Linked DNA regions of Homo sapiens. The protein of the gene in region 1 interacts with the protein of each later gene in a biochemical or structural test. Each region holds a gene or a part of one and is shown on either strand. Other genes may lie near its edges.

Region 1 (7,022 bases):
CAACTCTGGGGCTCAAGTGACCTTCCCACATCAGCCTCCTGAGTAGCTGGGAACACAGGCATGCACCACCATGCCTGGATGATTTTTTTATTTTTTGTAGAGACGGGGTCTCCCCATGTTGCCCAGGCTGGTCTCCAACTCCTGGACTCCAGTGATCCTCCTGCCTCGGCCTCCCAAAGTGCTAAGATTACATACAGGTGTGGGCCACCATGCCTGGCCTTTAATGGTTTCTTAATAGCCCTCCAATCAGATTTCCTGCAGCAATATTTACCAATTCATTGCAGGGAAGGGACACGCTCAAACAGGGCAGTTGGTCCAGTGCCAGAGAAACTTAACCAGGAAAAATAGATGAAAAATTGAAGTGAAGAACACAGTACAATGTAATATGGTACTGAATGAAAAGATGAATCCATAGAGAGAGGATTATGGCACAGTGTCAGTCCCAGACTTATTCTTAAAGCATCATAAGGAGGAGAGCACACTTTAAAAGGTACCAAATAAGGGCCTCAGGTAACTGCTTTGAACAGAAGTTGTTTTACAAGCCTAGCATTTGAATGCCGCCACCACCAGCAACCCCCACAACTCTTTACAAGTTTATAGGCCTACTACTTCCCATGGGGAAGTCAAAGGGTAGTTCTATTGTTTTTCCTCCCTAAGCTGACCAAGCAATGCATTGTCTCCACCTTACTGGCATTACTTTTAATCCCCTTTTCTTGAAATAGCATGGAGTACTAGAGTTCTCATACATTGAAAACAACTGGCCAAAACCCAGAACACAAACCAGTCCAATTCCATGTTGTACAAATTTTTCCCAGGTCCTTTAAGAGATCTTTGCCCATTCAAATAGCATTTGGAGATTGAAAATGAATAAATCTGTTGATCGTGAAGGGAACATGAGGGATGAGTTGTTACACTTGCTTTGGTGACAACTGAGCCATTTGGGGACTTGGGGCACACCTTAAAAGAAGCAAATACAAAAGATTCCACCCAAAGAGAGTGCCTATCTTCTACCCTTTATCACTGTCCCTTGGAAATATTCTAATACCCTGTGGAAAGAAACGAACAGCATGAAATGTAGGAAGTAAAACTGCTCAAGTCTCTTCTCCCACTACTGATTAACTGATTGACTGACTGACTGAAACAGGGTTTCACTCTGTTGCCCAGGCTAGAGTGCAGTGGTGCAATCACAGCTCACTGCAGCCTCCTCCACCCCCAGGCTCAAACAATCCTCCACCTCAGCCTCCAGAGTAGCTGGGACTACAGGTGCACACCACCATGCCCTGCTAATTTTTGTATTTTTTATTGAGCGAGGGTTTCACCATGTTGCCCAGGCTGATTTCAAACACCTGAGCTCAAGCGATCCTCCCTCCTTAGCCTCCCAAAATGCTGGGATTACAGACATAAGCCACCGTGCCTGGCCCCTCACCTTATTTGCCTCTCCCCTCTTCCTAGACGAAATCTGCTCTGGTGCCCTATATGCCCTCTGACGAGGTACAGAAAAGGACAAAGTTGCCTATAAAGAGGTTTTTGCTTGTTCAGGAAAGTAAAATTAGATTTAAAACTTGCAGGAAAACCACCAGGAGCATAACTTCCCATATGATTCCACTTCAAAACATATACAAAAGTATGTATGAGAGTGACATAGCTGTAATATAGAAAGCATGCAGTAAAGGGGATAATGAATGAGGAGAAAGTGGGTATCTACAAAAAGACATCTGTCAAATTAACACATATATATCCCATCAATTATTTTATACCTTCTACAATTTCCCTATAGCTTCTTTAAAGAAGGGAACCTGGCTGGACAGGGTGGCTCATGCCTGTAATCCCAGCACTTTGGGAGGCTGAGGCAGGTGGATTGCTTGAGCCCAGGAGTTCGAGACCAGACTGGGCAACATGGCAAAACTACATTCTACAAAAAATACAAAAAATTAGCTGGGCATGGTGGTGCACGCTGTAGGCTCAGCTACTTGAGAGGCTTAGGTGGAAGGATCACTTGAGCCCAGGAGGTTGAGGCTGCAGTGAGCCATGATCATGCCACTGTACTTCAGCCTGGGCGACAGTGAGACCCTGTCCCAAAAACAAAAAGGGAACTTGGTTTTTTGTTTTGATTTTTATCCTCACAACCAAACTTTAAAAACTAGAGCATAACATCTAAGCTAGGAAGATTGGCTTATATATAATATGTATAGGTTTATATATTAAATGGCTTAGATATTATTAAATATATATAAAATTGGGCCAACTGTAATAATAAATTGGGATCAATACAAGGAGGATTATGACTAGGTTTAAGTGTTTTCTGAGGAGCATCCAACAATACTCCTAAAAGCGGAATGCAAGGAGTTATCAGTAACAACATTAACCACCCTAAGTATTGAGAATTTTCAGTTCTTTCAACTCAGATATTGAACAAAGATGGATGTGAATACACATACAGGCACACACATACACACACCACTTTTCAAGTCAGATCCACAAGTATGACTGAAGAAATCATTTCTAATTCTGTATAAGATGACGCTATTATAAGAGCTGGTTTATCAGGTTGACAAATTCTGTTTCCAGGAAGCTAACCAATTCCTGGCATTACTTAATGAACAAACTTGTTTAGTAGTTCCAGAGCTGAGAACACACTAGTGGAAAAGTTTGGCACTGTCATCTGAAATCTGGGACAACTGACACAAGTGAATCAGGGTTATAGAATCTAATTTTGTGTCAAAGTAAAATACATTCCTAGAGGTAGACAGGTTCTTCAACTGATACTTCAGAGGACATGTATAAAGACAGGAAGTAAATCAAGTGGCTCTTTTAGGCATTTCTTCCTGGATTGAGGTTTTGTTTTTGTTTTTTTTCCTTCTAAAAAGCAACATCACTATGCACACTTGGCTGCCACAAGCCAGTTATCTCTGTGGTATGGACTGAGACTAACTGAATTATCAGCACTCCTCCAATGTGGCATTCTTTAAAAACAAACAAAACTTTTAAAAACAAATAACAGGCTGGGCGCAGAGGCTCACGCCTGTAATTCTAGCACTTTGGGAGGCCAAGATGCGTGGATCACTTGAGGTCAGGAGTTCGAAACCAGCCTGGCCAACATGGTGAAACCCCGTCTCTACTAAAAATACAAAAAAATTAACTGCGCGTGGTGGTGTGCGCCTGTAATCCCAGCTACTTGGGAGGCTGAGGCAGGAGAATTGCCTGAACACAGGAGGCGGAGGTTGGTGTGAGCTGAGATAGCGCTACTGAACTCCAGCATGGCGACAGGGCGAGACTCCATCTCAAAAAAAAAAACAACAAATAACAACTTTCTTAGACTGAAGCAGTTAGGAATATGAACTTCAGAGTCAGAAAAATTTGGTAAGGAGGCCCTGAGCAAATCATTTATTCTCTCCAAACCTCAATTTCCTCATCTGTAAAATGGAGATAAAGCATCATTTCACAAAGCTGCTGTGGGAGTTAAAAGCAACAGAAAACCTACGAATTATTTCTTATGGTACCTAACACAGTAATGCTAAAAAAATGCTGGCTATTATTATCATCAATGAGAAAAGGTCAATGGAAAAAGACTGGAGGCCATTTAATCTACCCTAATACTTAATTTTATTACTGAACTTTTATAAATCATTAACAACAATTTACTGAATACTTATCTTGTATTACACATTAGAAAGTTTTAAAAGATATTTCAAGGTGTTCAAACTCTAGGGATAAAAAGATAAACAACACACAAATACAAAGTTGTATGAAAAAAAAGATAGAATTGGCAGGGCCCAGGGGCTCACGCCTGTAATCCCAGCACTTTGGGAGGCTAAGGCAGGTGGATCACCTGAGGTTAGGGGTTCGAGAACAGCCTGACCAACATGGAGAAACCCCGTCTCTACTAAAACTACAAAATTAGCTGGGCGTGGTGGCACATGCCTGTAATCCCATCTACACGGGAGGCTGAGGCAGGAGAACTGCTTCAAGCTGGGAGGCGGAGGTTGCGGTGAGCCAAGATGGTGCCATTGCACTCCAGCCTGGGCAACAAGAGCGAAACTCCGTCTCAAAAAAAAAAAAAAAGACAGAATTAGACAATATATAAACCAGAGTATATAAATACAAATGTATAAAAATAAATATTTTTAAATATGAGTAGCTTATATGGTTATATAAGAGGTTATATGGATGATTTTACATAATTGTTAACAGACTAAAGATTCTTTAAGAAAAGCAAGCTGGCTGGGCGTGGTGGCTCACACCTGTAATCTCAGCACTTTGGGAGGCCGAGGCAGGCAGATCACCTGAGGTCAGGAGTTCAAGACCAGCCTGGTCAACATGGTGAAACCTCATCACTACTAAAAATACAAAAATTAGCTGGGCGTGGTGGTGCACACCTGTAATCCCAACTACTGTGGAGGCTGAGGCATGGGAATAGCTTGAACCTGGGAGGCAGAGGTTGCAGTGAGCCAAGACTATGCCAACACATTCCAGCCTGGGCGACAGAGTAGAGACTCTGTCTCAGAAAAAAAAAAAAAGGATTGAAGAAAATAAGAGTGACAGGCCGGGCGCATTGGCTCACACCTGTAAGTCCAACATTCTGGGAAGCCAAGGCGGGCATATCACTTGATCCCAGGAGTTTGAGACCAGCTTGGGCAACATGGCAAAACCCCATCTCTACAAAAAATACAAAAAATTAGTCATGGCCAGGCACGATGGCTCATGCCTGTAATCCTAGCACTTTGGGAGGCCGAGGAGGGTGGATCAGCTGCAGTCAGGAGTTCAAGACTAGCCTGGCCAACATGGTGAAACCCTGTCTCTACTAAAAATACAAAATTAGCCAGGCATGGTGGCCGGTGCCTGTAATCCCAGCTACTCGGGAGGCTGAGGTAGGAGAATTGCTTGAACCCGGGAGGCAGAGGTTGCAGTGAACTGAGATCGTGCCACTGCACTCAAGCCTAGGTGACAGGGCAAAACTCCACCCCAAAAAAAAAAAAAAAGTATTTGTGAACTTTACACGTGAACAAGTTGAGGTAGCGTAATAGTGTGCTTATAACTTTGAAAAGATTTCCTGAGAGTGGGAGTGGTCTGACACACTTAGAAGCTACCAGGAAGAAGCATAAGGAGAAAGAGGTTAATTTTAGAGATTAAGAGGTTAAGAATCTAGGAAAAGGAGGAGTATTCATGGAACTAGAAAAGGATCTATCAAACAAGGATTAGAGTTCAGGCTTAAAAAGTAGAAGCTCTTAGGCAGTTTTAAGTAATTCCCCAGTGGCATGTAGTTTTTCTTCTCCTGGTACCCCAACCTGTGGTATGGAGGCTGCCAGGCAACATACTCCTCTCTTTAGCTCCAGCAGGAAGCCACTCTTCCAGACTGAGCTATTACTTGTATCTCAAAGCAGGGTCTTAAGGCACTTCCCATTTGTGAGTTCCCTTGGCTAACAACCCAGAAAAGTTGCCAGAAGCACCACATTCTCTAATAAACATTGTTATCCCGTATGGTGTCTGTTTACTATGCCACACACTCTCTCTCTTTTCCATAGATACAATCCCCAAAGTAATGTTTTAATCTTTGTTTTGTTTCATTTAACTAATGATGTTATTTCTTCATCTTGACAATGTTCTACCCAGCTCCACCAGATCGTCTGATCGCACTGCCCACTCAGGAGAGTCTGTGCTTCAGTGTCCCTGAGTCAGATTTTACTTTCTCTTCATGACATTCCACATACTTCCACTGCCTCCACCCTGTCCATGCCCAGGCAAACATCATTTTACAATGAGTATATGCAATAAGGCCAGACCCTCAATTCATAAGAAACTTTTATCCTTCAAGAAATGGTTGAACCTTTGCTAAATCTCAAAGTCAAATGCTGGCGTTTTTCTGTTCTAAGATATAATAGGCATTCAATATTAATTGATGGTTCAAATTCTTAAAACACATATTATAAAGTAGGCCATTTATTCCTCATAAGAATCAATATATATCACCACTACATTTTAACGTTTAGTGAAATTAACCCAAAGGACTGGAGACTATAGAATTACATGTGTCAATACCAAAACGACAGAATTGATCTCTCTCCTGTATATCTTTACACACTTTTGCACTTAATTGTTTACATGTTTCTGCTTCACCTTACCTAACTGTAACTTCTTGAGGACAGGATAACACAGGCACAGGGCTTAATACTATGCCTGGCACATAGGAGGCATTCAACAAATGGGCAAAGAATAAATTAACAGCTTCCATAGAACCAGAAAAACCTCATCTTATCCTCTGTGTATTCCCCTAAGTAATGCTCAGTTGGACAGATACTTACTTTTTACAGATGCCTAAAATTCAGCTATTTTTTGTTTGTTTTTTGTTTTAGAGACAGGGTCTCTCACTCTTGTTGCCTGGGCTGGAGTGCAGTGACACGATCATGGTTCACTGCAGCCTCAACCTCCCAGGCTCAGATGATCTTCCCACCTCGGTCTCCTGGGTAACTGGGACTATAGGGGCATGCCACTACGCCCAGCTAAGTTTGTGTGTTTTTAGTAGAGACAGGGTTTCACCATGTTGCCCAGGCTGCTCTCGAACTCCTGGGCTCAAGCGATCTACCAGTCTCAGCTTCCCAAAGTGCTGGGATTATAGGTGTAAGCCACCATGCCCAACCTAAAATTCAGTTTTAAAATCCAACTGTCATTTTTAAAAATATCAGAAATCTAGTAATGACATAGCCATGTTGATTTATTAAACTGTGATTCAAATTTCAATCAAAACAGCTGCTAACTATTCAGAGTCTACATAGGTGGTCAGATTCTAGCCAAACTGAATTGAGACTATTCTAACAGGGAGCTCCTAACAGCCTTGGAACCCTAGACAAGGTGTCTGTAAGTCACAATAATTCTGACTTCAAACCAGAACCAGATCATCTGTAATCCTGTACTCCATTCACTATAGTTTCCTGTAGCATTTCCAAGTTGTTACATATTTTTCAGTGATATATAAAGTTTCAGACTGCGTTTATAAAAAGACCACATAAACAATCTCAGGTATTATG
Region 2 (7,971 bases), on another chromosome or scaffold:
AGGAGGGAGCACAAGCCATCTGCCCTCTTAGACAGAAAACAGTGTGGAGGAGGAGGTAAGGTTCCTGAGGGGAGTCTTCTGGGTCTGTTGGGCACAAAGGTGAAAGCTGGTGTTATTCTGGGGTAGTTTAAATCAGGCCCACCTAATCTTTTTGGTCTCTGTTTTGGGGGAACAGGAAAGGAAGTATGAGGGGAGACTCTGAGAGAATGAAAAAAACAATGTGATCCTTATAAAAGCGTAGCGAGGAAGAAGGTGCTGCTGTCCGTTTTTCTTTTCAAACTCCAGTTTTGACTCCATCCCGGGTTTTCCAGTCTCCCGGGAATGAGGGTGGGGTGGGGCGGGATGGGGTGGAGAACCACCGGGAGCGGGCCGGGCCGGCCGGCGCGGTGGGTGATCCCGGGATGCTGGGATTTAGGGTGAGGGCGGGGTGAGATGGGGAGCGGAACCCGGACCCCGCGACCCAGCCCGGCCCGGCAGCCTGGGCTGTACCCTTTTCTAACTCCTCCTTTTCCAACCGAGGTGCGGATCCCGCATCCAAGACCTCCCAACTCGACCTTGGAACTAATGTTGGGGGGCGGGGGGCACAGCTGGTTGGCAGCTGGATGGGGGGACAATTCTCCCGCCTCCTTCCCTCTATGACTCACCCAGGGGAAGGAGGGAAGTTTGCAAATGATCCCCCAAACACTAGAGACTCCCCCAAACTTGCCTACTCAGTCATCTTTCTGCCCCACTGCCTAGCTGCCGAAGAGCCTCCAAGGAAATGGGGCTACACCCCTCCTCGCCCACGCGTTCCACAGCCCACCCATATCTCCCCTTCAGGCTAGTAAAAGGAAAATGTCGCCAACTTTTTTAGCTTCGGTAAAGTTTTTCTGGGGTGTGAGAGTTCGGGATGGGACAGGGAGCTCTAGGGTTCCCCTGCCGGAGCCCTAAACCATCTTCGGTGTCTCCCTGTTTTCCAGCGTCCCCCTCGCACCCCCGCTCCCCAACTCCCAGGAGTCGGCTCCGCCCCCCTACTCCCGGTCCCGCCTTCCCCGCCCCCGTGCCTCCTCGGCCCACCCAAGTCGCCGCCGCAGGCACTGGCTGCAGACGGCTCCGCTCCCCCCACCCGCCCCGGGAGCCCAGTAGAGCGAGCCATAGGGGTGGGGGCTGAGGGGCGGGCCACATTCTTCCCTCCTCCTCTCAGCACATCCGGAAAGCAGGCAGTGGCGCCCAGGGGGGCACTACTGGAGAGTGGGGGTCCCCGTTGGTGGGGTTAGAAAGGGAGAAGAATCCAGAAAGTATAGGGGAGAGAAAGCAGAGAAAGTGACTGGGTCAATAAAATTAGGTGTGTATGGGGAGGAGGAGGGGCCCGGACACCTTAGGTTGCTGGTTATAGCAGCCGGCTTCCCAAGGGTTAACCCCTCCAGACCCCCGGGAACCCCCTGGTGACGTCAAGGGCGGGGATGCCAGGGAGATAATGGTGGAGGGGGAGAGGTCTCTGGACCCCGCCCCCTAGGGAAAACCACACTTATTCCGACCCTTACATATCCCCCGGGAAACCGCCCGCCTTCTCCCTCTACTGGAACGTAAAGACCTATCCTAGAAGACCCCAGCTCTCCAGACCCCTAAAACCCTCAGTCCCCAGGCTCTACGGGGTCCCCTTTCCGTAATCCTGTCCCGAAAGCTAGCTGCCCAGTGCTGATTGTTTCGGGGTCATGGGACCTGAAAGAGGATTCAGAGCGGGGAGCAAGGGCAGGCAGGGTGGTCTGAGCCAGAGGAGGGGCCTCGATCCCCAGCTCCCGTTTGGGCGGGGTGCCAACGGGGATACACAGGCTGGCAGTGGCCAGTGGTCCCGCCCAGCCCCGGTAGGGGTCTCCCTGCGGCTGGCTCCCGCTGCCCCGGTGGTCCTGAGGTCAGAGGGTCAAGACAAGGTCTCCCCGGCTCCTCCTGAGCTCCTTGCCCACAGCCCTTGGGACTCAGGAGTCCAAATTGCATGGGGTCATTCTAGGGCCTTCACTAGACCTTGGACAGCCCCCCCCCGCCCCAGCCCCCTTCCAAGTCCAGAAGACACTCCTTTCCCCTAAAGCACAAGCATCCACTGGCACATCTGTCACAAGACAGGTCAAAGGTTCAAGCCTGGCTGGCCCCTAGTGGCTCTGTTGCCTCCCACACACCCGTCCCCACCCCACCTGGAGCTCCCTCCTTTGCAGTCCCCACCTTTCAGAAACACTGACATCTTCCTACCCCACGCGCAGACACACACCTGGGGTTACCTCTCTACAACGCAGACCTCCAGCTAGCCATCCCTCCAGCCTCTTAAACTTAACCGCATGAAAGTAAGATATTTCTAATATATGGGAGAGGCGGAGACAAAGACCCACGGTTCCCTGAGACAGAGATACACAGACTGACAGAAGAAAAAAAGGGAAGAAAAAGAAGATACAGAGAAAGACACAAGTGAAAAATCTGGAGTTTCTAATGTCTCACCCCAGGCTCTCCCACCCCTATTTTGCCTCTATGTCCCGGGTCTGGGATGAGTCCCTAAGAAGCTGAGCATCCCCTCAGGCCCCCTCCCCCACTGCTCCCAGGTGGTCCCCCGCCTGCCCCCCCTTCTCACCTCTGTCTGGGCGCTGGGCTCGGGATGCGCGGTCCAGGGCTGGAGTCTGGGCTGGGGGGTGTGCGGTGGGGAGGGGGGGCGGAGAGGGCCACGGCAGCGCAGCCTCGATGCCACCCCCACCCCCCCAACCTGGCCCCCAGCCCTCCCGCCGGCCCAGCCCGCCGGGCCGCAAGCCCGGACCACCCGCGAGAAGCGCAAACTTTTTTTTTCCCTTTTGCAAAAACTTTTTCTCTCTCCAGCCGCTGGCGCGCCGCCGCTCTTCCCGCTCGCCCCTCACCTCCCTTCTATTTCCCTCCCTCTTGCCGTTCTGGAGGATGAGGCGGGGTAGCTGGAAGCAAGAGAAGGGGTGCCGGGCTTATTGCACCCCCAGGACCCCCAGGATCCTCCCCCTCCCTTGAGGGACCCTATACTGCTTACGCCCCCCCCCCCGCCCCGGCTGAACACGCTGCTGTTGGTGAGTACTAAATCCCGGCTTGGATTTCTGGATCGGCTGGCCCCAAAGAGGCCCCGACAACCAGATTGAGGAAAATATTGCGGGGCAGGGGGAGAAGTTCAACCGAGAACGATAATAGTGGAGGTAGGGTAGTCGCCTTTGGTTGGTGCTAACTGAGCATTCTGCCATCCTGTGGTTTATCTGCAGGCCTCACCCTTTGGATGGAACTTGCAGCGGCCGGGACAGAGTTGCGGTTTGGGGCAAATCAAGTTGGGTTGGGGGCTCTGGAAGAAGGTGAGGAGTCTATGGAGCATAAAAGCAAGGAGCAGCGGCTGAGGCTCTGGGTGCAGGGTGTGGTTCACGAGGTCACCAAGGAGCCCTGGGACTGAAGCCCCTTTCCCTAGAACCCCGGCTCTACGTCTCGAAGTTCTGGAGGGTGCCGCCCCTCCGCACCACGTCACTGCAGGCTCTAGCTGCTCTTCCAGGCTTTCTGCTCCCTCTGCTGGCCGTTCTCACACATGACACCCGCTCGGAGTCGAAGCAGAAGAGCTGGGGAACTGAAGGAGGAGCCCAGTTGAAGGAGGAGCCCCTCACTAAAGCCCACTTAAAAGCCCAGGAGGTGGATATGTGAGCTCTGAGAAACGGAGAGGCAGAGGTTGCTATGCCCAGCGGTACTGCCTGACAGGGAAGTGCCCTGCCTCTTTAGATTTGCATTGCCATCGTGACCGGATATAAGGGAGGGGCAGCATTTCAGTCTCTGATTTTTATGAGAAAGAGGAGGAAGCATGACAAGGAAAAAGGGCACCCTCTCCCCTTTTTTTCAACCCCACAGGCAGACCTCCCACATCCTAGCTCTGCTTCCAAGAACCACCCCCTTGGGTGTGGAAGGTCAGTGGGTTAACTGTTCAGTCTGAGGGTCAAGGGGGAAAAGAAAAGGTGAAGGTAGGGGGAGATCTGGGACTTTGACCCAGGCTAGTTATCCCCAGAGGGTCAGAGACCCAGCTCAGTCAGACCAGACTAATGGGCACTGAAAAAAAGGCACCCCACACATGCTCCTGTCCCAGCCTCGAGCCCCTTCTTCCAGAGGAGCTATTTATGTATTTATGTATTTATTTATTTTTATTTGGGACGGGGCCTCACTATTTGCCCAGGCTGGAGTGCAGAGGCTATTCACAAGTGTGATCATAGCCTCGAACTCCTGGGTTTAAGCGGTCTTCCGGCCTTAGCCTCCTAAGTAGCTGGGACCACCGGTGCCCAGCAAGAAGAGCTCTCTTAGAACACCTTACTTTCTTCTCCCCACCCAGTTCTATAGACCAGTGAGTCTCAAACTTTTTGGTTTCCTCTATACTCTTAAAAGTCATTAGGTTAGGCACAGTGGCTCAGACCTGTAATCCCAGCACTTTGGGAGGCCAAGGCAGGCGGATCACCTCAAGTCAGGAGTCCGAGACCAGCCTGGCCAACATGGTGAAACCCCATCTCTACTAAAAATACAAAAAATAGCTGGGCATGGTGGCGCAGGCCTGTAGTCCCAGCTACTCAGGAGGCTGAGGCAGGAGAATCGCTTGAACCTGGGAGGTGGAGGTTGCAGTGAGCCGAGATTGTGCCACTGCACTCCAGCCTGGGCGACAGAGCGAGACTCCGTCTCAAAAAAAAAAAAATCATTGAGCTTTTGTTCATATGATTTACATCTATCAATTCACCACATTAGAAATTAAAACTGAAAAAGACTGTAACACAAGACCATACAAGCACACATTCCATTAACAATGATGTCAGAAAGATGATGTAATCACATGTCACACGGCCTCTGGAAAACTCCACAATACAATTTTAAGATAATGAGAATTCAAAAGGCAAATAACATGTTAGTATTATTATGAAAATAGCTTTGACTTTGTGGACACCCCTGAAAAGGGACCTCCCAGAAGCCTACAGAGTACACTTGAAGAACTGTTGCTCTGGACCATCACCCTAACCCTTCTTTATGACTCACATTTGTTGATTTTCTTTCTCCTTTTTATTAAGAAAGTATAAGCCAGGCGCGGTGGCTCACGCCTATAATCTCATCACTTCGGGAGGCCAAGTCGGGTGGATCAAGAGGTCAAGAGATTGAGACCATCCTGGCCAACATGTTGAAACCTCGTTTCTACTAAGAATACAAAAATTAGTGGGCGCCTGTAATCCCAGCTGCTCGGGAGGCTGAGGCAGAAGAATCACTTGAACCCAGGAGACGGAGGTTGCAGTGAGCCAAGATCGTGTCACTGCACTCCAGCCTGGTGACAGAGCGAGACTCGATCTCAAAAAAATAAAAAAGAAGAAAGAAAGTATAAATGCTTGTCTCCCAGTGGGTCCTGTCCCCTGGGAAAAACCAGGGAACTTCTTAGGCTTAGTGCCTCATTTTCCTGACTCCTGTTTCTGGGGGTCCCCTAAGCATCCTCCCTCAGCGCCTTGCCCATCTCCCTCTTGACCTTCCCTTAAGGTACCTCAACAGCCCTTACCCTGGGCCAGCCTGCTTACCCTGCTTCAAGCCTGCTGGACCATCTATCTGCTTCCTCCTCCCCTCACTTGAGGACTTTCTCATCTTGGGAGAGGCTAAGTAATTTTTCTCTGCCTTCCCTCCCTCCCTCCCTAGTCCCTGACATCTTCTCACAGGACTTAGGGCAGGAAATCATGCTTTCTGGGTAGACCCCTTTAGAAGAAACGCTTTACCCATCTCCCAACACATCAGCCAACCTGGAATAAGCCAGAGTCTCAGACAAGAAAGTGCCCATTTGGGTCCCATAGGGGTCAAGTGAGTCATATTGCCAGGTGGTTGTTGGGTTGGGGTGTGGATCAGGAATCTGATGCCTCCAGTCACAGATGCCCTGTGCCTGGGAAACTTCATCTTGGTCTCTTCACTCCAAAGCCCCAGGTCCTCTTGCTAGCTGCAGCCACAGGCCTCCACCACCATATCTGGCACATCCGTCTTGACCACATTGCCATTATGATCCAGGTAGAGGAGAGAGAGGGGCCTTCGGGCAGTAGGGACACAACAGGAGGTACTGGCAGGCCAAGGATTGTTGGCTTTGAGGAGGCTGAAGACGGCAGAATGGAAAGAGGCAGCAATGCCTGGGCTGCCAGCCAGGTGGGGAGGGCACTGCCCACTGCAGTAATTCAGCTGGTACCCCTCGGGCTGCAGTATCCAGTCCCGCCATCCCAGTTCCTGGAAGTCTACGTAATGGTCTCGCCTGCAACATAAGGGGGTCGCAGGCTCACAGGTGGGGGTCCTCCTCCTGGCCCGGCCTGCTCCAGGCTCATTGGCTCGGATCTTAAGCTCTAGGAAGGGCTGCTGGTGTCCTGCTGTGTCCAAGAGCCGCCTCGGTTGTCCAGTAACTGTGCTGTTGCCTTCTAGGGGTCTGCAGTCTAGTTGCAGTTTCAGGACACCAGACTTCTCACCCCTCAAGCCACTAGAGGGCAGAGTTAAGGTATGCCAGCCCAGGTTGGTGATGTGGTGCTCAGCCAGGAGAGTGCGGGACCCTTGGCGCCTCCTCCTTGGTCCCCATCGGAAGATCCTCAAGCAAAGAGTGCCAGGAAGGGTGGGGAGCACGTGCAGCCACAGGCGGGCATGGTACAGGTGGTGGGACCGAGGAGTGGACAGGTGAAAAGTGAGCAGGGAGCTGTAGGCTGAAGTGGAGTCTGCCCGAAAGACAGAAAAGGGAAAGAAAATGTGAGTAGAGATGAAGCTCTCCTCTGAGACTCCCCAAGCCCTGCCCACTGCTCTCCCTCGAACCTACCTCTAGAAAAGTAGAGACTGCTTTGTGTCCTCTGCAACCAGTCCCTGCCCCAGCTCCTCCTTCTCCTGCCACACCCCACTCCCTCTGCTGCTCCTGCCAGGCTCCCCTTCTGCCTCCCTTTCCCTGTCTGCTCTTTGCCTGTTGCTCTCTCCCTCACCCACCTGTGACAGTAGCAAAGCTGATGACCTCCTCCCCATTCCCTGGAGCCACACTCCCTGGCTGTAGTCTCCGGAGGGCTCTGGTCAGCGCTGCCTGGGGTGGAGGATGAGTTATTCTGGGACGACTGGTCAGGTGCAACCCATCCAGGATTTGCTGCTTGGCTAGCTCCAGCACCAGAGCTCGTTCTGCTTGGGGTGCCAGTTTGGAGCCCCCACAGGAGGGACACACAGACCCTGTCCCCTGTGCTCGCACCAGTGCCCACAGCAGCACCAGCCAGAGCTGGACATCAGGGAGCCGCATGCTCCTGGTGAATGGCCCTGGTTCAGGAGCCTCGGATGGCAGTTGCTCCGTCTGTTGAGTCTGATTGCTGGGGGCCAATGAGGGCACAGTGACAGCAGACACCACTGCCACACCTACCCTTGGCCAAGGGTACAGCCACCTGTCTTCTATTGTCTGGGACTCAGGAAGGCTGAAAGTAGATCATCTGATGGATAGCTGTGCTTGACCCTCACAGCTCATGTCTGGCTACTGACCTGGGGCCTCTTTAGAGCCAGCTGCCTGGGTCTTCCAAACCTAGTGGTCAGCCAGCCGACCTACCCTCTGAGTCCCAGGATTGGCCAGCTGTGCTGCCCATCAGGCCCCTGCAGGGGGTGGAGGTCCTCCTCCCCATCAGCTCAGGTTTCACCATCTGGCCATGGTGACTGGGCCTGAAGTAGGGGTATGGGGGTGGGGGGGTGCAATGTGGACACGCATGATGCAAGAAAGAGGATGATTTCACATGCTCAGTCCCCAAGGTCTGGGACTTGGGGGAGGGAACGCCTTATGAGCCAGGTGGGGAAGGGCAATTTTCCCTCATACCTCTAGTCTTTCTAGCTTCACCACTGCTGCAGCAGTTTCCATGAGGCAGCTGTGAGTTCCAGTGGGTATTCCTCTGGGGCCCTTAGGCCAGAAGGAAAATTCTGGTCTCTTTATTTCTAGCACTGGGGCTAGGACAGGGATGAGGGTTTGGG
Region 3 (7,022 bases), on another chromosome or scaffold:
CTACTTATAATTTGTAGAAAGCTTTGATAGGAATGCCTGCTTTCCAGAAAATTAGTATTAAGGCTTAAACCCAAGTAATATGGCCGTAATTTTGGTGCTGGAATGGCCTATGTTAGAAATTGCAAGATCTCTATATCGAGAGATCTTTATGAGTTGGAAAATATTTTCCTTTCTTAACCTGGGTATTTATCTTACTCTCTCTCCTCATCCTGCTCCTATTTTCATTAACCCAACTCAGCCAAACCAGATAAAAGCTGAATAACTGGCCATCATCCCTCTCCCTAATCGTCAAGGTTTTTTGTTTTTTTGTTTTTTTTTTTGTGTCATCTCGGCTCACTGTAACCTCCGCCTCCAGGGTTCAAGTGATTCTTGTGCCTCGGCCTCCCTAGTAGCTGAGATTACAGGCACACGCCACCATGCCCAGCTAATTTTTTTTTTTTTTTTTTAAGTAGAAATGGGGTTTCACCATGTTGATCAGGCTGATCTTGAACTCCTGACCTGAGGTGATCCGCCTGCCTCGGCCTCCCAAAGTGCTGGGATTACAGGCATGAACCACCATGCCCAGCCTCTATCTTCCATTCTTTAAAAATAAATCACCTGTCTTCCTTATCCACCCCAAATTAATTAAATAAAATTTTATTTGTATACTATTTACCAAGCATGAACCATGACTTTTCAATATGTGTTATTATGGGTTTTCTTTTTCTTAATTCTAATGGGAGTTATCATAGATTTGTATTAAGGTTTTACTTTTTTCTTTTTTTTTTTGAAGACAGAGTCTCACTCTGTTGCCCAGGCTGGAGTGCACTGGTATGAGCTCAGATCACTGCAACCTACGCCTCCTGGATTCAAGCAATTCTTGTGCCCTTGCCATCTGAGTAGCTGGGACCACAGGCCTGTGCCACCATGCCCAGCTAATTTTTGTATTTTAACTAGAGACAGGGTTTCACCATGTTGGCCAGGCTGGTCTCAAACTCCTGGCCTCAAGTTATCTGCCTGCCTCAGCCTCCCAAAGTGCTGGGATTACAGTTGTGAGCCACTGCACACCTGGGAATCAACTTCAGAGGTTTATGTGGTTTCATGTACAAATATATGGTTTCTAATTCTCCTGAATTGTCTTCAAAAACTGTTTACAGCTGTTTCTAGAAAAGACTGTAAATCTAAAAGTCAAAAAACTAATAAAAATTAAGGAGTGGAAAAATGTCTTTTGTTCCATTACACAAAGTTCAAGTGAAAGGGAGAATACTAAGTATATGATTTTTTCAAGCATCCCTACGGATAGCCTGAGAAGGTTCATAATATAGTAAAAATACATATATATTTTAGTTTTTCAAACCCTTTGCTATTTACTAAATATTTATTAGGTTGCTGCTAAAGTGATTGTGGTTTTTGCCATTAAAAGTAATGGCAAAAGCCGCAATCACTTTTGTACCAACCTAATACTAGGTAAATATTTAGACTGAACATGCCTAGAAAGCATTCTCTCAAAATACTTACTTCACCAAGGTTAAAATGTTTTCTATGCTTTTATACTTTTCTGTTTCACCCTACTTCATCTTTTGTTTTTCTTGAATCCTCAGTAAATTTTCATAACTAATTATGTTTTCACTCTCTCCTGAATTTTCATTCTAGAGGCAAATAACAGTAGAATTCAAAGCCTAAGTTGCCTTGCTGGTTCATAAACTACTTTTATTCCAAGATTACATCTTATATCTTAATCACCAAAAGCAAGGAAATGTTTTCTATCCCTATCAAGTGGTTTATTGTTAATGAGTGGCAAAAATTCTATTATTAAAAACAAAACAAAATTCAAGGGAGTAGTAGTTTTGGGACCCTCGAAGTATGCTTTAATTCCAAAAGGTGAATGAAGATTTAAAAGATTATTGGTGAAGACAGTATGCATATAAAATTTCACTGTGGTCATCTGATCCTATCATCGTACATCTTAACTACTACATATTAATAGTAGTCTATATTTCGGTTATTCAAGACATAACTCACGAGAACTCTCCCCTCCTAACCCCTTCTTTTAATGTAGATTAATCTCACATTTCTTCTTCTAAATGATTTTAGCTTAACGTACATTATTCTACTTAATAACTATAAAGGCTATAAAACGAAAGCTACAATGAAATGCTATTAATGCAGACCAAAAACATGAAAATAAATAGAACACTTACTGGCTCTGTTAGTGTTGTATCTTTCTCCAGGAACTGTACAACACAATATGCTAGCTAAAAGGTAAGGGACAGTTTATAAATATTAGTGAGATAACATTTAATAATGTAGGATTTTTATATTTAGCCAATATTTTTTAGACTACCTCATTTTGATAAATTATTCCAATATATAAAAATATACTCACAACTGTGAATGAAATTGTGAAATACCTCAATCGTGAAACTATACTCACAATTGTGTAACTTTTTAGCCTTGAAAGTAACTTCAAGTTTAAAAAACATTTTTAGTAGTAATTTCTGACTATAAAGTTAACTGAAATAAGACTAGAGCTAACAATTTAGTTTTTCAGCATGTTTCTACATGTACACCTATGCTGATATATTATTCTCTAAATATTAATAGAAGAGACCAAAATCTCTCTAACTAGGTCTAGGTTATTGCAGCTGGAAGAAACATTCTGTAGATATGTGGGATTTATTCAAAGTCACATAATTAGGTCAAGACCTGGACTATAATATGAGGAAAGTGTGTATCTTAAACTGTAAGTGTAGATATAGAAATTAAATAATTGGTCTTACTTAACAACTAAATACTTTAAAATAAGAAAAATTTGCTTTGGGTAATTTTGTAAGCAAATTGCTTAATTATACTTAAAACTGTCATCTCAGTATTTCTCAATTTCTCTGCCTTTATATTGGCCTTTGAAATAATATTCATTTCATCTGAAATGTTTCTGAAACTTACCTGAGCATGAAACAAAGCTAATCCTTTTGCAGTATGCATAGGAATAAGAACCTTCATTAGAAATTGTTTATGTTCTGCTTTCAGTGGCAATGCAAAGCCATTGATAATACTGGAGGGAAAAAAAGGCAGGGGAAGGGTTAAGTAGTTACTACTTTGTTTCTAAAAGCTGTCATATCCATGAGTACATAAGGAACAGTGCTATGCTTCAATCCTGGTGTTGTATGACTGCTCATCTTCAAACTACTTTAGGAAGACTATTACTATGAAGTCTGTTCCTCTAAGTCATTTGATGATTCCAAAAGAAAATTAGGACTGTCAATTAATTCCCAAGTAATTTCTATCTTCATTTTCTATCAAACCTGTCACTTTATGCATTGTTGCTTTTATTTTTGCCCCCAAAGCTCCAGGAGAGTCAGTACCACAATATTGTTAGAATGTTCAATATTTTTCTGAAGTAAATGGGTAATTTTTCTTACTTTGTTGGATAACGTGAAAGAAGTAGTTCTCTCCACAATCATTTTCTACTATTAATAAAGGAAACTAAAATCATTGTCTAAATAGTAACAGAAGGGTCTAAAATTCTCTTAATACTAATACGTAGTGAATAAGGAAGGCAAAGTGTTATGGCAAAAGGTAATAAGAATTCAGCTGAGGCTGGGCATGGTGGCTCACGCCTGTAATCCCAGCACTGTGGGAGGCCGAAGGGGGTGGATTGCCTGAGGTCAGGAGTTCAAGACCAGCCTGGCCAACACGGTGAAACCCCATCGCTACTAAAAATAAAAATTAAAAAATTCGTTGGGTGTGGTGGCAGGCACCTGTAATCCCAGCTACTCAGGAGGCTGAGGCTGGGGAATCTCTTGAACCCGGGAGGCAGAGGTTGCAGTGAGCCGAGAACGCGCCATTGCACTCCAGCCTGGGCAACAAGAGCGAAACTCCGTCTCAAAAAAAAAAAAAAGACTTCAGTTGAGAAACTATGTGTTCTACATTTAAACTCTAAAATATGACATAATTTCTCCAACCCCAGCTAAGATTTTAATACATAAAACATTCACTTACTTAATTCTTAAAAAGAACAAAAAAACCTGACCTACCTTCCTAATATTTCAAGAAGTTCAGCAACACCATTGAAATGTTCTGTTTCATATATAAACCTGAATTTAAAATAAAGACAAGATGTAATCAAAATCAAACTTCAGAAAACTAAGAGAAACAGGCAGGAGGGTGAAGAAATCAATCCAAAGGACAGCTATTAGAAACACACAAGCATGTTTTGGGTCTTATAAGCAGTTTTGCCCCAAACAGTTAATTCATATCAATCTTAAAAAAGAAGATGTTTCCTACTGAACTACATATGCCTTTGCCAAAACTCGCCATATGTGAAGATAACAGATTGTCATTTCACCTGGAATATTCAACTTAATAATTAATAAGAAAGATAAGTTTCCTCAAAGAAATACTTTTTAAAATAAGAAACCTCTAATTATAGGGAAATCCAAGAGAAAAAGACCCATATGTAATAAAGCCATTTTTAATCAGAATTTCTTTACACCTCTAACTATATAGGCTGCATAGCTTTCCAAGATTAGGGCTGCCTTTAAAGCAGGGAGACATAAATATAATAGGGCAGATATTTGAAATGGGCTTAGGAAGTGATGACAGAGAACTGGAGAAAGATATTCACTCTAGAGGAGGCAGATATTACTCATCTCTAATTGTTGCAATGTGGGAATAGTAACCAAATTTTGCCAGATCTTCAATTAATTAAACAAACCAAACCTTGAATGTGGGTGTTGTTATGAAATCTCCTGATCTGAAGCAACTACTTAACAGATTAATATTTATAAAGTACACTTGGCCCTGTATCCGCAGGTTTCATTATCTGTGCATTCAACCAACTACAGATCAAAAATATTTTTGAAAAATAAATACAAATTTAAAATATAGAATAACATCTATTTGCACAGCATTCACACTGTATTAAGTATTGTAAGTAATCTAGAAATAAAGTATACAGGAGGATGTGTGGACGTTATATGCAAATACTGTGCCATTTTATATAAGGGACTTTGGATTCTGCTATTAGCAGGGGCCCTGGAATCAATCCTCCCCAGATACTGAGGGATGACTACAAGCAAATGATAGGCCCCATATAAGAGGACTGCTTGAGTTCAGGAGTTCAAGACCAGCCTGGGCAACATACATAGTATGTTACATATATACTACGTTACATATATATGTTACACATATATACTATGTTACATATATATGTTACATATATATACTACGTACATACAGTACATAGACCTTGTCTCTACTAAAAGTCAAAAAAATTACCCAGGCGTGGTGGTGCACACCTGTAGTCTCACTACTTGGCAGGCTGAGAGAGGAAGATTGCTTGAGTCTGGGAGATGGGGGCTACAATGAGCTATGTTCTCACCACTGCACTCCAGCCTGGATGACAGAGTGAGACCCTGTCTCAAAAAAACAAATAAAAATAAAAGAACTTGAATACAAGAAGATATGTAGGAGGAAAAGGTGCAATATACAATAAATGATTAATTTACCTGAGGAAAATGTTGTTAATTTGTTTTCTGATGAATGCTCTTAATCCAAGAAATTTCCCATAAATTCGGTGCAGAACAGTCTTCAGGAAGTCACGTTCTCTGGGATCTTCACTATCAAAAAGCTCCAGGAGCTTTAAAAGAAACCTGAGAAATTACTTTTAAAAAATAATCGAGCTAAAGCTTTATTCTAATTTTGATCTTAAAGATTATCCATGACATCTTTTAAAAATTTTTTAGAGTTCTTCCTTACCACACTGACTTTATTCTTGCTAAGTAATGAAGGTGAGGAAAAGCTTAGGAAATATTTCTTCTCACTTATTTCACTTCAAAATATGACATTTACAATAAATATAAATATTTCAAAAAGTGGATTTTTCTTTACCTTCCCACTGATTTTAAAATTCAATCCTACTCTTGAATACTAAAGAGGCTCACAATTTTGGAGTGTTAAAATTTGGGATTTTTAATGCTTTTTGATCGTCAAAACTACATAGAAAATCGTTTAAGTTTTTAGATTGCAAGTCATCAAATAGTCTTAAAAAGATCCATGTGTAAATGTATATTTCTAGTTTACTAGAAAGATGTACATATACTAAGACTTCTTTTTGTGAATTTACAATAAATTCAAGACAGTTACCATGCAGACATTTGAAAAATTAACATTCAGTTATTAGAATAAAATATTGGCAGATACATACTAATAGAGTAGAAATCATATATAAAATAACACTGGACTAAAAGATGAGGCCAAATTTTTTTTTTTTTTTTTTTAAGACAGTCTTGCTCTGTAGCCTAGACTGGAGGGTAGTGATGCAATCACAACTCACTGCAGCCTCGACCTCCTGGGGTCAGAAGATCCTCCTGCCTCAGCCTCCCAACTAGCTGGGACTACAGGCACATGCCACCACACCCAGCTAATTTATATATTTTTTGGTAGAGACGGGGTTTCACCATGTTGCCCAGGCTGGTCTCAAACTCCTGAGTTCAAGCGATCCACCCTCCTCGGTGTCCCAAAGTGCCAGGATTATAGGCGTGAGCCACTATGCCCAGCCCATAGATTTTTCAGCTTAGCAAATAGCTGAAAAATTTTAAACCAGTTCCACAGTCAGCACTCTCCTATACCTCAATTGGCCCAATCAGTGTACTCCTATATTCTGCACAACTTTTCAGCAAAACCTGAGAGAAGAGACTTTAGAAAAAGTTAAAGTCAAAATCTCAAATTTCCATTTAAAATGGTAAAGAAACTTAATTTCTTCTGTCAAAAAAAACACTGTATTTTAAACATTGGATTTTCTTAGAAAAATATAAAATACTCTCTCTAGAGTACAAGTATCTGTAAAGCTGTCAAGGAATTTTATGTTCTGAACTTTCGTGTTTATAATTACAATAAAGATAGCAAGCTCTGAACCTCATCAGAAGTTCTTATTCCATTTTGTTTTGAATTATATACAATTGCTAACACATGCATCTGAAACCAGAGTGGATGACTTAAATCATATTTATATCTCCCAAAACAACTGCCATACTTATAGT

The links. The genes of interacting proteins can lie anywhere in the genome.
Region 2: of the proteins of MAP3K3 (region 1) and GLI1, one has a biochemical effect on the other in vitro, tested with the Homo sapiens proteins (one study listed by BioGRID).
Region 3: of the proteins of MAP3K3 (region 1) and PPP2R5A, one has a biochemical effect on the other in vitro, tested with the Homo sapiens proteins (one study listed by IntAct).

What each region holds. Positions count from the first base shown.
Region 1 is NC_000017.11:63,625,403-63,632,424, reverse strand, and holds part of MAP3K3 (mitogen-activated protein kinase kinase kinase 3), read right to left. Parts: intron 1-7,022. UniProt on the Homo sapiens protein: Component of a protein kinase signal transduction cascade. Mediates activation of the NF-kappa-B, AP1 and DDIT3 transcriptional regulators.
Region 2 is NC_000012.12:57,454,827-57,462,797, reverse strand, and holds the start of GLI1 (zinc finger protein GLI1), read right to left. Parts: upstream 3,014-7,971; 5' UTR 2,597-3,013; intron 2,522-2,596; exon of another isoform or gene 2,243-2,521; intron 56-2,242; exon of another isoform or gene 1-55. Other genes in the region: INHBE (inhibin beta E chain preproprotein), read right to left, coding at 5,950-6,704, 6,964-7,261. UniProt on the Homo sapiens protein: Acts as a transcriptional activator. Binds to the DNA consensus sequence 5'-GACCACCCA-3'. Regulates the transcription of specific genes during normal development.
Region 3 is NC_000001.11:212,344,401-212,351,422, reverse strand, and holds part of PPP2R5A (serine/threonine-protein phosphatase 2A 56 kDa regulatory subunit alpha isoform), read right to left. Parts: intron 5,621-7,022; coding exon 5,490-5,620; intron 4,077-5,489; coding exon 4,017-4,076; intron 3,035-4,016; coding exon 2,926-3,034; intron 2,235-2,925; coding exon 2,181-2,234; intron 1-2,180. UniProt on the Homo sapiens protein: The B regulatory subunit might modulate substrate selectivity and catalytic activity, and might also direct the localization of the catalytic enzyme to a particular subcellular compartment.